Linked DNA regions of Homo sapiens: region 2 is linked to region 1. The links come from fine-mapping of genetic effects on gene expression. A gene starts in region 1. The other region holds a variant in brackets. All regions are shown on one strand. Distances are from middle to middle.

Evidence for each region.
Region 2: its variant is fine-mapped to the expression of CHL1 in blood mononuclear cells (TOPMed, PIP 0.98).

The regions. Positions count from the first base shown.
Region 1 is chr3:195,153-198,065 of GRCh38, forward strand. It overlaps CHL1 (cell adhesion molecule L1 like), which reads left to right and starts at 1,611. Exons shown (of 28, transcript NM_006614.4): 1 at 1,611-1,911. It overlaps CHL1-AS2 (CHL1 antisense RNA 2), which reads right to left and starts at 2,189. Exons shown (of 4, transcript NR_144487.1): 1 at 1,815-2,189; 2 at 1,304-1,356; 3 at 844-888; 4 at 606-762.
Region 2 is chr3:216,838-219,750 of GRCh38, forward strand. All of the region lies in intron 1 of CHL1 (cell adhesion molecule L1 like), which reads left to right. Among named protein-coding and RNA genes, the nearest start is that of CHL1-AS2, 21 kb to the left of the region's middle. The variant G/A (reference allele first, on the strand shown) is at 1,266.

The DNA.
Region 1 (2,913 bases):
TATTGTGGCTTGGTACTGTCTAATATATTTGGAGGGTATTTGATTTTTTAAAAAGCTACTGGCCATGCCTATTGAGTTTCCTACTGAGCCCAGCACCCAGACCAGTGATTGATTAAATAGTAGCTGCTCAATAAATATTTGTTTTGTAAATAATGATTCTATTGTCAAGAAACAAATCACCAAGAAAGAAGGAGCTATATATTTAAGAGTACTCTGTTCATCTGGCCAAAATGGAGTTCCGAGTCCCTTGCTCAGCTGATGTTTGTTCACCCAGAAGATGGTAAACTCCTGAGACCAACTTCGCTTTGTTGTTCTCTTGTGGTTCCTTGACCTTGGAAATGTTTTTCTACAGGCAGAGTATTTCCCCCTGTTGGAATTTTATTTAATATTCTATCTTTGTTTCTACTTTAGAAAACATGCCACGTGAATAATGATGCCTCAGGCAAAAGAAATCACTCCAGCAGTACAATTTAAACTTAGGACAAATCCTGCCCTCACTTGCATTCACAATTTGCCAAGGCAGTTGGTAAGAACTGTGCCCACACACAAATTGACAGAATCGAGGCCCCAAGGTTAGCGATGATTAAAATTTAAAAGTCCATTCATTCATTTTCAAAATATTTTATTCGATTGCTTCTGAGGCAGAATCATGAGTTGCCTTCGCTTTTGCTGCTCCCGGTGGTGGCATCCAACTCTGAGGATAGCTCATCCAACTCTGAGGGTAGCTCTGAGGGGAGCTAAATATCCTCATTGTTCAATGAGCTAGATGAAAACAAAACGAGGCTGTAAGGTCAATCTCACAGCCTTAGTGGAGTAAAAATTAGAAGTCAATAATTCTCTTACCAACAAAGAGGACTTGCATTCAACAGGATTTTCAAAAGTGGTATCCTGTAAAAATTTTGGAAAATACCACCATAATGGAAAAAAAATAAAGTGGCATATAAATCAAATGTAGTGCTAAAAATTATAATTTTTCCATATGAATTTTGGAATCCTAAAATATTTTTATGTGTTTGTGGATTCATAAGGCATCAGAACTGGCTTTTTGCACTGAATATGAGTACAGAAGGCTTTCCTCTCCAATAGTGAATTAATAAAGGATAAGTAGGAAAAACGTTACGAAACGATGTGGTAACATTATAGACTCTGTATTAGGGCAAAAATTGTGAGATAGTAGAAGATCTGTAAATTTAAGCATGCACAATTTGACAGCGGATGGTCGTAGCATATTTTGTAAATTCAATAGCAAGCCCCACCACGCCCTTAAATGAAGGAAAGCAAGAAGACAATTTTTAATACGTACATGGCACCACACCCCTCTAAGACGCAGCAATGGGAGAAAAGCAGATTGGCGACCTGTGTGTGCAACATGAACCGAGTGAAACCATCGGGGAGGGGGTGGGGGGCGTTTCTTTTAAATGTCGCTTTTGCAGATAAACGAGCAGGGATCCTACCTCTTTTGACCGGAGATGTTGAAAAGCACGACCAAAGTTTTTGGCTTGGTCTCTTGCTTTCCACAACGAGATAAAGTCTGAAGCCTGTAACTCTCCCTGTCCCGCGGGAGCGTGCAAAGGGAGGGAAGATAAGCGGCGTGGGTGAGGGGTGGCGGCGCAGAACCCAGGAAGGGAGCAGAGGCGAGAGCCAGCCTCCGGCAGGAGGGCGTAGACCCCGGTGCCAGCCAGAACGGCTCCAGCCTTCCCGCGGCCAGAGAGCCAGCGGCGGGAGGGGACGGGCGGGACCTCCGCGGACAGCCCCGGGTGCGGACCAGCGGGCAGCGGCCGGCGAGACCCTCCCTGGATCCGCCCAGAGCTTACCGGACCCTGCGCGCCCCCGTCCCGGCTCCCGGCCGGCTCGGGGGAGAAGGCGCCCGAGGGGAGGCGCCGGACAGATCGCGTTTCGGAGGCGGCGCAGGTGTGTCAGGGGTGGGGGTCCGCTGGCATCTCTCGTGCCGGCGCTGGGGGGGTCTCCCGTGGAGGAAGGGCTGAAGGTGCTCCGGGAGGGGTCCACTCGTTATGGAAAGGAAGCGGGGCGCGGTCAGGGTCCCTCGTCCGCAGTGGGGGTGGTCCGGGCCCCTCAGCCTGCACCCGGGAGGAGACGCCCCCTTTTCACGCCCCGCCCCCGGTGGCCGAGGCCGGATTCGGACAGCTCGGGGTCAGTCGACGGAGCACACCGGGCGCCCGAATCCGCCGGGTCCCACTCACGCCCGCCGGCCGCCGGTAGGTTGGCCCTCCCGCTTCCAGCCTCCGCCACCCCATCCCTCGCTGCTCTCTGAGGAGGATTCCAGACCCCCCCGTAGATCTCCGCCCTCTCTCGGGTGGGGCTCCGAGGTCTAGCTGGTCTGGGGGTCAGTCCCGGCCTCTGTCTCCCACCGCGCCCCTCGCTCCCCTGGACACCGCCTGGTGTGTGGGGCTCAGACCCCCCCAGTCCACTGCCCCTGTGTGGCTCCTCCTCTCAGGAGAGGATTCTAGATCCCAGCCCGGGGGGGGTTCCGAAAATGCCGCCAGCCTGGAGCGGGGAATCCATGGACCGTGGGGTTGTGGGGTTGGGGAGCACGAAAACCCAGAGAGGGGCTAGAGCTCCACCTCCCCAGACCGCCGAGGGGCGAGAGGGCGCGCCGGGGGCCGTGGTTGCCATGGCTCCTGGTAGCGGAGCCCGGGGGGCTGGAGATGCCGGTCGCGGATGGTCCCTTCTTCCTCTTTGTGCCTCTCTCTTTCTCTCGCTTTTTTTTTTTTTTTGGAGTGTGAGTGTGCGTGGGGAGGCAGCACGGAGAAAGTGATTAATTTGGGGAGCAGGGATTGGAGCCGGGAGGCTGGGGAAAGCCAGCCCCTCCGTTCCCACTCTCCGGGCTCGCTGCGAGCCACAGTGTCTCAGCCAGGGGCAGGGCCGGGGAACTCCTGCGAAAAACCACGGGCC
Region 2 (2,913 bases), 22 kb after region 1:
TGCCATGATAGAGGCTCAGAAGCTAACACTGAATTCAGCAGTGCAGAAAAACTCCAAATCATGTGGTTCTTCTTTGTCAATATTTTCACTAAGGCAGCATAAGATATTAAATCACCTGGAATTAGTTATGTGCCATTTCAGCAACCTTTTGTGCTCAGTCTGCTACAAGCTGCTTGTGCTGATTAGCAGTTTAAAAGTCTGCAGGGGAAGGAAATTTTCAGTAGCTTGATTTTCCCCCACCCTTTGGTCCTGTGTGCATTGGGGAAGAAATTACCTTCTGTGCAATTCCTGAATAATTTGGTTTGATTATTAATAGATTCATGCTGAAAAAAGAACAATAACAGAAAAAAAATTACCCATGGGGTTGCAGCTGTGCTCCCAGATACAAAACAGGGAAAGAAAACAGGTCTCTCCAAGCAAAGGGTATATGTGTATACGTGTGTGTGCATGTGTAGCTCTGATTCTAAGAAGCCATTGGTTCATTTATTCATGCATCAAATATTTATTGAGCTGCGAACAAATCCCAGGCACTGTGAGGAAGACAGATTTCCTGCCCTCCCAGAGTTGCCATTACTAAGAATGTTAGCCAATAAATAAATCTTTACGGGAAAGAAACAAAGGACTGTGATAGAAAAAAATGGGAGGAGAAACTTACTTTAGAAAGGATTATCTGAGAAGGTGCCTTTCACGCTGAGCCAGAAAGGGAAGAAGGCAAACAGGAAAAGAGCCAGAAGAGCAGAGTTCCCAGCAGAGGGGAAGCAAGTGGAGAGGCGGTGTGGAGGAATCAATTTGGCCCCATCTGGAATGGACAGAAGGCTAGAACCTGCAGTGCAGTGAGTGTGGGAGAAACCAGCTGGCACAAGGTGAGCTTAGGGCAGATCACATAAGGCCTTGTAGGTCATGGACAACAATATGGATTTAAGTGCAGTATAGGAACTTCAAAGGAATTCCAACAGTTAAGCTAGTTGATGTAATTTGTGTCTATATGTATATATATTTATATATACAAACAAAACAAACCTTGGCTGTTGCATGCAGAGTAGATTGCAATGGAGAGGAGGACCAGTTGGTATTCCGCAAGGGAGATAAGAACAGCTTAGGCTTGAATGAGGATGTGATAAAGGGGATTTTATGAGCAAGGCTGTTTTATTATTTTATTTATTGTACTTCTATTAAGATGATATGGGTGCTTTGGGGGCTGTTGTAAATTATAACCCACAGCCCCTGCACAGGAAACCTCCACAGGAAACAATCAAAGAATAAGT[G/A]GTTGTGAGATGACAAGGTTTACGATACGTGTTTTCAGGCTTCTTAATAGCAGAGTGATTGGGTGATTTCCAAAAGACCTCAGGGCTGGGATGGGTGAAATTTTGTGAGCTTCTGGATTGGATGAGGGTGTGCTCTTGCAGAAAGAATTCCTGAATACTTTCTGCACTGACAGAACCTGCTTATTAATTCTTACAGCAGTTATGTTTTAGAAGATGAAAGACCCTTTCCATTCAATTATTGATCATAAGCATGATGTGTGTTGATTAAAATGGCATGATAATGGTATCAAATGGAGTTTGGATATCTTTTTCCTTAATATACTTTTGTGTATCATATTTAAGTTTCCTCAAGTCAGTAGAGAAGATGTTACCCACATCCTCTTTTCCAAAGAAGGAATCATTTGATCATTGAAAGGTTTACTGAATAGAAAATAAATTATGTTGACTTTAGCACAAATTCCTGCCCTAAGTTTTAGCCCATATATTGATGATGTCAAGTGCTGCTAAATGTGTTCTTCTTCTATAAAAATTAAAGTTTAAGCTTTGGATGCTAACTTTCAAATCTATGTGAAATGATATGATTTATTGTGATATAAAGAATGACATAAAGAACAAAATAATACTTTTTTAAATTTATGAGGAAAAAGACAACAGAAAGGAAAAATGGGCAAAGAAAGAGAACACGTTTCATGCAAATCAAAACCACAATGAGATACCATTTCGCACCGGTCAGAATGGTTATAATTGAAAAGTCAAAAAGTAGGCCGGGCGCACTGGCTCACACCTGTAATCCCAGCACTTTGGGAGGCCAAGACGGGCGGATCACGAGGTCAGGAGATCGAGACCGTCCTGGCTAACACGGTGAAACCCCGTCAGTAAATAAAAAATACAAAAAAATTAGCTGGGCATGGTGGCGGGCACCTGTAGTCCCAGCTACTCCAGAGGCTGAGGCAGGAGAATGGCATGAACCCGGGAGGTGGAGCTTGCAGTGAGCCGAGATCATGCCACTGCACTCCAGCCTGGGCGACAGAGTGAGACTCTGTCAAAAAAAAAAAGGTCAAAAAATAAAAGATGCAGGTGAGGTTGTGTGGAGAAAAAGGAAGAGAAAGTACACTGTTAGCGGGGGTGTAAATTAGGTCAACCGTTGTAGAAGACAGTGTGGTGACTCCTCAAAGACCTGAAGACAGAAATACCATTCAATCCTGCAATCCCATTACTATATATATTCCCAAAGGAATATAAATTTTTACATTATGTTAAAAAGACACATTCATATGTATGTTCATTGCAGCACTATTCACAATAGCAAAGACATAAAATCAACCTAAATGCCCATCAATGACATCAATAACAGACTGGATAAAGGAAATGTAGTACATATGCACCATGGACTATTATGCAGCCATTAAAAAAGAATGAGATCATGTCCTTTGCATGGACATGGATGGAGCTGGAGGCTATTATCCTTAGCAAACTAATGCAGGACCTAATGCAGGAAAACCAAATACTGCATGTTCTCACTTATAAGTGGAAGCTAAGTGATGAGAAAACATGAACACTTAGAGGAGAACAACACACACTGGGGCCTACTTGAAGGTGGAGGGTGGGAGGAGGGAGAGGATCAGAAAAATTAACTAATGGGAACTAG